3 linked regions of the Homo sapiens genome follow. The protein of the gene in region 1 purifies or fractionates together with the protein of each later gene. This does not show direct contact. Each region holds a gene or a part of one and is shown in the gene's direction. Other genes may lie near its edges. The genes, in order: FBLIM1, DCLK1 and KIF18A.

Evidence for each region.
Region 2: the proteins of FBLIM1 (region 1) and DCLK1 purify together in Homo sapiens (affinity purification with mass spectrometry; one large-scale study listed by BioGRID and IntAct). This does not show direct contact.
Region 3: the proteins of FBLIM1 (region 1) and KIF18A purify together in Homo sapiens (affinity purification with mass spectrometry; one large-scale study listed by BioGRID and IntAct). This does not show direct contact.

What each region holds. Positions count from the first base shown.
Region 1 is NC_000001.11:15,768,784-15,772,440, forward strand, and holds part of FBLIM1 (filamin-binding LIM protein 1), read left to right. Parts: intron 1-1,625; coding exon 1,626-1,795; intron 1,796-3,657. UniProt on the Homo sapiens protein: Serves as an anchoring site for cell-ECM adhesion proteins and filamin-containing actin filaments. Is implicated in cell shape modulation (spreading) and motility.
Region 2 is NC_000013.11:36,110,847-36,114,503, reverse strand, and holds part of DCLK1 (serine/threonine-protein kinase DCLK1), read left to right. Parts: intron 1-2,288; coding exon 2,289-2,635; intron 2,636-3,657.
Region 3 is NC_000011.10:28,024,633-28,028,289, reverse strand, and holds part of KIF18A (kinesin-like protein KIF18A), read left to right. Parts: intron 1-3,657.

The sequences.
Region 1 (3,657 bases):
TGTATTGCTTTAGCCTTTTTCCCTTTATACCTAAATTCTATTTAAAATGTTAGTCTGCAGTTTGCTATGATAGCAAAAATGTCTTGAATTTTTTCTCACTATTTTATTTTCTGAACACCTAATGCCCTCACACAGTGCAAAATAAACAGCATGAGTGGGGACACAGTGAGAAGCCTGCAACCTGCCCCATCCCCCTACCACCCGGTTTCCTTCCAGATGGGTGTCCTCTGTCATTGAGCTCTCATGTATCCTGCCAAAGACACTATGCACATACGAGCAAATACAAATATGTGTCCACCTGCTCCCTCCCCCCATTTTTCCATAAGTAGCAAACTAGGCTCTTCTGCTGTTCACTTTCTTTCCTTCGTACATCTCAGAGCTGGTCACACATCAGAATATAAAGTGGCTCCTGGCTGAGCGTGGTGGCTCACGCCTATAATCCCAGCATTTTGGGAGGCTGAGGCAGGTGGATCACCTGAGGTCAGGAGTTCGAGATCCGCCTGGCCAACATGGTGAAATGCTGTCTCTACTAAAAATACGAAAGTTAGCTGGGTGTGGTGGTGTGTGCCTGTAATCCCAGCTACTCGGGAGGCTGAGGCAGGAGAATCTCTTGAACCCAGGAGGCGGAGGTTGCAGTGAGCTGAGATTGCGCCACTGCTCTCCAGCCTGGGTGACAGAGTGAGCTTCCGTCTCAAAAAAATAAAAAAATAAAATAAAATAAATAAACAAAGTGGCTCCTGGCTGGGTGTAGTGGTTCATGCCTGTAATCCCAGCACTTTGGGAGGTCAAGGCAGCCAACAATCCCTTTGTCCTGAAACTGCTGTCCAGAATTCCTTATTTATTTATGTTATTTATTTTTATTTTTATTTTTTTAGACAGAGTCTTGCTCTGTCACCAGGCTAGAGTGCAGTGGCGCGATCTTGGCTCATTGCAACCTCCACCTCCTGGGTTTAAGCGAGTCTCCTGCCTCAGTCTCCTGAGTACTGGGACTACAGGCGCCCGCTACCACGCCCAGCTAATTTTTGTATTTTTAGTAGAGACAGGGTTTCACCATGTTGGCCAGATGGTCTCGATCTCTTGACCTTGTGATCCGCCCACCTCGGCATCCCAAAGTGCTGAGATTACAGGTGTGAGCCACCGCGCCGGGCTCTTTATTTTTTTTAATTTTTATTGTTTTTCCTGAAACAGAGCCTCACTCTGTTACCCATGCTGGAGTGCAATGGCACAGTCTCGGCTCACTATAACCTCTGCCTCCTAGGTTCAAGTGATTCTCCTGCCTCAGCCCCATGAGTAGCTGGGACTACGGGGGCATGCCACTATGCCCGGCTAATTTTTGTATTTTTAGTAGAGATGGGGTTTCACCATGTTGGCCAGGCTGGTCTTGAACTCCTGTCCTCAAGTGATCCGCTCACCTTGGCCTCCCAAAGTGCTGGCATTACAGGTGTGAGCCACCATGCCTGACTCAGATTCCTTTTTAATGCTCCTCATGACCCTCTGTATTTGTCATTTGAGGAATTTGCAGGGTTTAAGACAGAGCCTCGGGTATCCTGAGCATGTTCTGGGTGGTGCCTGGGTACAGTCCTCACAGGCTGGGCTGGTGATGGCCTGTGTCTCCCCTACCCCAGACATCTGTGCCTTCTGCCACAAGACCGTGTCCCCCCGAGAGCTGGCTGTGGAGGCCATGAAGAGGCAGTACCATGCCCAGTGCTTCACGTGCCGCACCTGCCGCCGCCAGCTGGCTGGGCAGAGCTTCTACCAGAAGGATGGGCGACCCCTCTGCGAACCCTGCTACCAGGTAACCCCTGCAGCAGACCTCTGGGTGCCAGGCAGTGAGCTGAGCACTTAGAATATGTTGCACCATTTCATTCCCCACACAGTCCTGGGAAGTAGGCACTATTGACCCCTTTCACAGATGAGGAAACTGAGGCTCAGAAAGAAGGAGCCCAGTGAAGGCGATTGGTTTCCTAGGGCTGCCTGTAAGAGATCACCACAACCTTCGTGGCTTCCAGCAGTACACGTTTATTCTGTCCCAGTTCGGGAGATCAAAAGTCCAAAATCAGCTTCACTGGGCCAAAACCAAGGTGGTGTGCTGTCTGGAGGCTTGAGGGAGAACCCACATCTCTGCCTTTTGCAATTTCTTTTTTTCTTCTTCTTCTTCTTTTTTTTTGCGGTGGGGGACGGAGTCTCACTCTATCGCCCAGGCTGGAGTGCAGTGGCACGATGTCAGCTCACTGCAACCTCGGCCACCCAGGTTCAAGGGATTCTCCTGCCTCAGCCTCCCGAGTAGCTGGGATTACAGGCACCTGACACCACACCCGGCTAATTTTTGTATTTTTGGTAGAGATGGGGTTTCACCATCTTGGCCAGGCTGGTCTTGAACTCCTGACCTCGTGAGCCACCCACCTCGACCTCCCAAAGTGCTGGGATTACAGGCATGAGCCACTGCGCCCAGCCTGTTTTTTTTTGTTTTTTTTTTTTTTTAAGATGGAGGCTCATTCTGTCACCCCAGCTGGAGTGCAGTCGTACAATCTCAGATCACTGCAACCTCTGCTTCCCGGGTTGAAGCAATTCCCATGTCTCAGCCTCCTGAGTAGCTGGGACTACAGGTGCCTGCCACCATGCCCAACTAATTTTTGTATTTTTAGTAGAGATGGGATTTCACCACTTTGGCCAGGCTGGTCTCAAACTCCTGACCTCAAGGAATCCACCCCCTCGGCCTCACAAAGTGCTGGGATTACAGGTGTGAGCCACCGCACCTGGCCCCTTTTGCAGTTTATGAAGCTGCATTCTCCTTGACTCCTTCCTCTGCTTCAAAGCCAGCAGTGTAGCATCCCACTTCAGCGGCCCTATTGTCACCTCTGTGTCAAGTTACAGGGACACGCGATGGCATTTAGGACCCACCTGGATAATCAGGATAATCTCCCCCATCTTAAGATCCTTAGCTCATCCCATCTGAAAGCCTCTTTTGCCGGGCAAGGTAACATTCGGGGTCCAGAGATAAGGACTGGATATCTTTGGGGGCATCTCTTAGCTACCACACGAGGTCACACGAGATGGCCAAGGAGCTGGGATTCTACTCCACACCCATCTGGCTCTGGAGCCTGCCATCAGTCTTGCCACTATCTCCCCTAGAGTAGAGCCACAGGGTTCCAATGTTTGATCTCACGGGAATCTGTGTTGCTTCCGGGTACCAAGTGCAATCTGGGAGAGCCAGCTGGGATGCCAGCACACTGGAATTTCTAACTCTTGGATGGTTTGTGGTGGCATGTTGAGTGTGGTGACCACCCACAGCCGCATCCCCTGGGGATGTGTAGGCCACTCTTTGTGCTTATGAATGAGGAACACCTGGAAATCAGCATTTTGAATCAGTGTCTCAAGTGATTCTCATGCATATAGAAGTTTGAAAACGGCTGATTTGAAGGGTTAGAGTATTTGGAGCTGAGACTCTCCAGAAGAATCCAAACAATCCAATCCCAGGCTCACCACCAGTGAGGCACTGTGGGAAGAGAGAGGAGCCAGGCCCTCCCTGCCGTGTCCCTGTGACCCCATCAACATCATGGGGGAGTGTTCCTCAGGGGTGAGACACCAGGGGAGGAGGGGTGTCCAGCTGGAAGCAGGAAGCAGCCAGGAGGAAGACTTGAGCAGTGTGCTGGGGAG
Region 2 (3,657 bases), on another chromosome or scaffold:
TGTGGTGTGTGATCTTGGATTTGGTGGCAGCTCCTTCTCCTTCCTTTAGCTGTTGCTTTCCTGTTAGCACAGTATCATCTGTTACTGGAGTCTCACATCCTTCTCTAAGATTCTCATTCCAGTCTTTAAATCTGATTATCCAGCAGAGGAGCCTCACATTTACAGCTCAGATTAAACACATATTTCTTCTGATCATTGTTGCTTGAACCAAACCAGCAACGCCTTCTCAGTGTAACTGGAGAACTTTCTTATGCTTTTAAACATTTTCAGGGTGCTTTATCTAAGAAGATATTTTTAAAAAGTGTTTATTTTCTCTTTTAACAAACTCACTCCATGTTGCTATGTTCTTTAAAACTGCTCCCTCTTCTAATTTAATATATTTTTAAAGTTTTTGTTGAAATGTAAACTGCTCTCTGTATCTTTGTTTTGCTTTTAGTTATTAGCTTAGTATAGAAACTTATAAATAATCAGACAATTGCATATCTTCAGTTAGCACAGAATTCTGACAGAGGCTAGCTTTGCCAGCTCAGTTACATGCTGTGTGTCTCACTGGGGAGTGTTAGGGCATTCTCACATTGACATGGACCCAACGTGGTGTCCACTGGTAACTGTTCAATATAAGACCTGCTTACCGATTTCTAGTAATTTTGTTTTTGAATTTTTCTTTCAGGCTTACTGCACGATTAGGGTATGTAGCCTCAGGTCATTTTCACTCACATAGCAGGTTTGTATTTGAGATCACTTTGATCTCTATCTTCTAATTTGATCTTCAGAAAAACCTAATGAGGTTTTGTTTTATAGATAAATAAACTACCACCCAGAAATCTGAGGGACTTGTCCAAAGTCACATGCTTGGAGAGGCCAGGTCTTGAGCCCGAATTTCCAGTTCTCTCTTCCCACTATCATGTGCAGGTCATCACTCCATGAAAACTCCCAAAACACTGCTGTTTCTATAGTACCCAAATATGCCTTTCTCAGGATTTAAGAAAATATCAAAAATACATATAAGTTTTTGATATTTACTTAAATCCTGAGGAAGGCATAGCTGAGACAAGTCATGATCTGCCAGGTGAATAGAAATGGGGTTGGTTAAACTTGCACTATTCATACAACTTCTAGTGAGGCATAATGTGTATGTATACACATTAGAGAATATTTTAAGAACATCTGCAAAACAAGTGTTCAGTAACATGTATAACTGCTCTTTTTAACTTTTGAAGGCCTGCTTCAGTTATTTTTATGTGACTACTTATTCTTTGGCCTTGGATGCTTGCACTGTGAATTTAAAAATAATACAAGGACTTAGATAAAAGTCAATGGGCTGTGTTAGATTAGGCCTCGGTCATTTTACCTACAATTATGAAGGTCTTTCAGCATTTTTACCTATTCCTAGTTACAAAAACTTATTAACACAGAAAAAAAGCCATTACAAAATCTTTAATTTCAAAAGGCTTTGACCTAACTTTATGAAATATGTATTTAGAATTCGTCATTTTACAATTTGTTGTCTCTTGGTTCATGTTTTTCTTTTTTGTGTGTGTGATCTACATCTACTTAATAGTCTGATTATTTTCATTAAAAGATTTCCTGCTAAGGAGTCACTTTTAATAAACATTTACTTATATTTATTTTAGAGCCCATTTTTGAAGCTGTAGTTTGTATGTTGAACACTTCTAAAACCTCTTACTTATGAACAAGTATGAATTGACCTTATAGTATGTGTGGATCACTGTGATTGGCACTATATAGATGAGAGAAAGGAAGGGTGATTATTTGCTTGCTTTTGGAACTTTACTGGGCTTTACAAAATCTTTAGCATCAACTCTCATCAAATTCGTAAATTATATGACTATTTTAAGATGCTGTATTCTGATTCATTCTTAGTGTTTAAATTATCTCAGGTAGCAAATGGAGGTACTTCCAATTTTGAAATTTTCTGCAGATTTAAGTATCTCTAATTCCCAAAGAATATTTTCTATTTTAAATTCACTTTCACACTTCTCTAAGGTCTTTTCAAGTAGATCAGCATTTCTATCACCGACCTTAAGATGAGGAAATGGAGGAATAATGTTTTGTTTTGTTTTTCCAGGATGTGGATCTGTTGCTGACAGTGCCAGATTAGCAATCAGAAATCTTTCTTTTTCCCTAATTATTAATCACACTTCCATTGTTTGAAAAGTCAGGGCTAGCTCTTGCCCCTAAGCAGAAAAGGCAAAAGAGAGGATAAGTAGGAAAAAAGAAATGGGCATATTTTAGTATAAATTTAAATATATTTCTCTCTTCCTTAGGAGAGAGTTATGTATGTGGCTCCATAGAGCCCTTCAAGAAACTGGAGTACACCAAGAATGTGAACCCCAACTGGTCGGTGAACGTCAAGACCACCTCGGCTTCTCGGGCAGTGTCTTCACTGGCCACTGCCAAAGGAAGCCCTTCAGAGGTGCGAGAGAATAAGGATTTCATTCGGCCCAAGCTGGTCACCATCATCAGAAGTGGCGTGAAGCCACGGAAAGCTGTCAGGATTCTGCTGAACAAGAAAACGGCTCATTCCTTTGAGCAGGTCCTCACCGATATCACCGATGCCATCAAGCTGGACTCGGGAGTGGTGAAACGCCTGTACACGTTGGATGGGAAACAGGTAAGAGACATATTGTGATGTGACTTTGACTTTAAGGCAAGAACCAGGGAGTCGGAGGGTGTACGTGGCTAAAGCATACATTTTGCTCAAGTTGTTAAAGGGCCTGGGTCACTTGATCAACAAATATGTACTTGCTGGCCCTAGAACAGTCAGAAGTTTGAGTTGAGCAGGATTATTCATAGGAATAAAGTAAGAAAAAAATGCATATCTTTGAAGATTAAATAATTACTCAGTGATTTCTACTTGTTCATTTATTATTTGCTTAACATAATGATTCTTTTCTGTCATCTGTTTTCAGTTTTCTCATAGATCTTATAGCCTGAAGAATGAATGACTGAGGTGTGAAAGTAAACTCTGACCAGTAGGGAAAATTCTAACTTATTTCTTTGACCTAAATATTTTATGATTTTAAGTCTTTGTAGTGTTCGCTAGTGAGATTTACTTACATTTTATAGATTTTAAAATATGTATCTAAGAAATGACATATTTCCATCTGGATAGCTTTAAAGGCATATTTCTAGAATAGTACGCATCTTGTATTTTTCAGTGTTAAAATGAAAGGGAGGTTTTTCAGCTACAGAATGAACATCAGTTGACTTGGATGGGTGGTCATTTTAATGTGAGTTGGTCAGATGAACCCAAAGGAAGCATCACCTTTTATTGTCTTGGGTGGACTATTTTTGTACAGGTTTGACAGAACCTTGATGGTGAGTTGAATTAAAAAACATTGATTAGGGCCGGGCACGGTGGCTCACGCCTGTAATCCCAGCACTTTGGGAGGCCGAGGCAGGCGGATCACGAGGTCAGGAGATCGAGACCATCCTGGCTAACAGGGTGAAACCCCGTCTCTACTCAAAATAAAAAAAAAAAATTACCTGGGTGTGGTGGTGGGCGCCTGTAGTCCCAGCTACTCAGGGGGCTGAGGCAGGAGAATGGCGTGAACCCGGGAGGCGGAGCTTGCAGTGAGCCGAGATCGCACCACTGCACTCCAGCCTGGGTGACAGAACAAGATTCCGTCTCAA
Region 3 (3,657 bases), on another chromosome or scaffold:
GGAGTGCTTTACTTCCAACTATGTGGTCAATTTTGGAATAAGTGCAGTGTGGTGCTGAAAAGAATGTATATTCTGTTGATTGTGGGTGGAGAGTTCTGTAGACGTCTATTAAGTCCGCTTGGTGAGAGTTTTTATCATAAAGGGATGTTGAATTTTATCAAATACTTTTTCAGCATCTATTGAAATGATCATATGGTTTTTGTTCTTCATTCTATTGATACAATGTATCACATTGGTTAATTTGCATATGTTGAACCATCTTGCATCCCTGGGATAAATCCCACTTGGCCATGATGAATGATCTTTCAGGTTTGTTATTGGATTCAGTTTGCTAGTATTTTGTTAAGGATTTGTGCATGTGTTCATCAGGGATATTGGCCTGGAGTTTTCTTGTTTTGATGTGTCCTTGTCTGGTTTTGGTATCAGAGTAATACTGGCCTCATATAATGATTTTGGAAGTATTCCTTCCGCCTCTGTTTTTCAGAATAGTTTGAGTAAGATTGGTATTGGTTCTTTTTTAAATGTTTGGTAAAAATCAGCAGTGAAGCCATCAAATTCCAAGCTTTTCTTTGCTGGGAGACTTTATTATGACTTTGATTTTGTTACTTATTATTCATTTGTTCAGGTTTTGGAATTTTTTCTGAAAGATAGACTGGTAGGAAAATATCCAAACTGATGTGCAGTATGATAAAAATATGGGAAGAAGTGAAAGAGACATGGGACACAATTTTTAAAAGTCTAGAAAATATGTATTTTGTGTCTCAGAAGGGAGTGAGAGAAAGAATAGGGAAAAGTAATATTTGAGATGATGGCTAATACTTATTCAAAACTAACAAAAGACATTAAACCATGGATTTGAGTAGCACTGCAAACCAAAAGCCGGGTTAATATAAAGAGAAACATACCTAGGTATATAGTAGTAAAACAACTAAAAACTAAAGATAAGGAAAAATCTTAAATATATTGAGTTATATGACTAGAAGTTCATGATGCATTCTTTATATCCTATAAATTGAATGCAATGACAAATATACTCAATAAATATAAAATGGATCTGACTTCCTCTACCTCTTTTTCTTTGCTATGTGATTATGGGGAGAAAAGTTTATAGAAGACCTTAAAATGACTCTTTTTAAATGTATTTTCCACCAGGAGCCTGTTATCATTTAAGTAACAGGAAGCGAATTTACAAGTAGCCTACTTATTTGTGCTACATAGAGTATCTTCTCATAAGTGAATTTAATATCTGTCCTTGTCCCTCCTAAACAAAGTATAACAGAGACTTGGAATGTGTAAATTTAAAATTTATGGATTTTTCCTAAATGTCTCATCTATGACATTTAAAATTTTATATTTGCTAAGGTACAAATTTGATTTGTACAATTATTCTGGTTTATATACAGAAGTCTGTCACTTTATGAGTGAGCCTAGCTAACCACAATCATCTGTTTCGTCTACTTTTATCACTAATTTGCATAGTGTCAGTTTTGTCATTTGTTCCATTAATTAATTTTAGTGAGTTTTCTTGTCCTTCACTGGTAGTATGTTGTGTTTACTAAGATGTCACAAATGTTTATAGATAAGAATAATTTTTAAATATGAACTTAGCTATTATAAAATCAAATAGTTTTTCAGGAAATGTCCAGGTATGTGAATTGTGTATTTGGAGTGATTTTAGATAAGTTAAAGGGCTTCCACATGAACAACTAATATTGTGAAATAATATTAAAGGACATGTAAAGAAAGTAACTTGATTTCTTATAGCCTATTAATTGTTCTATTACATTCCCTCTGGTACCAGTAATTAGATCCTGCCATTAACTAAGGTTAAAAGAGATTAATGCTAGAAATGTACATGATTACTTTTTTTAATCTTCTTTTTCCCCAATTAAAGTTACATGCGCTTCAGAGTAATAAACTGTGGTATTTTCCATTTAGCAGCTTTATATACATATTTAGTTGTGTATATATTCTAATATAGTTTTTAAAATAAAGAAGGGGAAGCTCTCTATATATGTATTTCATTTATTTTGCATAAAATGGCATTAGAGTTTGAAAGCACTGGATATTCCAAAACCTACCCAACAGATTTGTTTAAATAATTGAGTATATTAGATTTTTAATCTTAACAATTTATTTAATATTTCTCTAGCACACTATTTTACTAAATTGATTAGCCTATCAAATATTTAAATATAATGCATACATAATGTTAGCTTTTACTTCTCAATTATATTAATCAGAGTTTTGGATTGTTTGTTTTGTATTTGTTTGGTTGATTGGTTTTTTGTTTGTCCACAATCTTCTGAGCACCCCAAAGCAGTTTCATATTTGCCATACACTTTTATTTTGTTTTGAAAGATGTCTAATTATTTCAACTAGAAATTATTTCAGATAAAATAGTAGAAGAGGTATTATGTTGAGTAGAAACATTCTACCTATATAAGGGAGCAAAAGGTTAATTCTTAACTTTATTTATAGTTATGGGAATATGTTTTGTGCACAACTGGAAGTGTCTTTGGATTTTTCAGTATAGCCTTTAACATAATTTGAACTTGCGCTCATCAGTTTTAAGTCTTTGTAGTTTATGACCTACAACATAAATGTTAAACATTTCATCAGTGGACTATTTAACTAAATCGTAAACATGTTTGGGTATATTTTACTTTTATATAAATACGCAATTTATTAGGGTTGGATTTGATTTCTAGAAATATGAGTTCTAATCAAATGGCTTTATTCAAAAGCCTAATTTTCAAGAAAGAACATGCTATGAGTAAAAAGTAGGGTCCTGGAACTAGCCATAATGCATAATCGTACTATGAAATAATAAAGACAACTTTGGGATAAATTTAAGAAAAAACAATGTTTTATCAAAAGTAACTAATAATATTGATCTTTATATTTGAAAAAATAAAATCACCAAATGATCAAAAAAGAATTTCTGCCTTGGACAGCTGATATATACAAAAGTGTGTTTAATATGCAAAACAGAATCATAGTAATTTATCACCATTTAAGAAGTGGGGACTACTGTAGTTGATATAATATTTGTGCATACAAATTTGTGATTTTATCTTCTTAAACTGTGTCATTTTCATTACTTCCACTGAGTAGTCACCCCTTATTCAAGTTTTGCTTTCTGTGGTTTCAGTTACCCATGGTCAACCGCAGTTCAAAAACAGGCGATTGTAGAACAATAAGATATTTTAATAGAGAGCGAGACCACATTCACATAACCTTATAATAATTATAATTATAATTGCTCTATTTTATTATTATTGTTAATCTCTTACTGTGCCTAATTTATAATTTAAACTTTATCATAGATATGTGTAGGAGAATACATAGTATATATCCGGTTTGATACTATCCTCGGTTGCAGGCATCCACTGGCGATCTTAGAAGATATCCCCCCCGTCGATAAGGGGGATTACTATATAGTATCTTTATTAGCCAGAATTTCCCTAAGCTTAGGTTGTTTGAATCAGCGTGGAAGGATGTTCTTTTTCCACCCAACCCCCCCCAATCCTACCTGTTAAAAATTGATCCTCTTTAGGACTAGGAAGGATTGCTGTTTTTCAGGACCCAGATCAAATTCATTGCATCCACAAAATTTCCATTATTCTTTCTTACTCTACACTCAAGAATCTATAG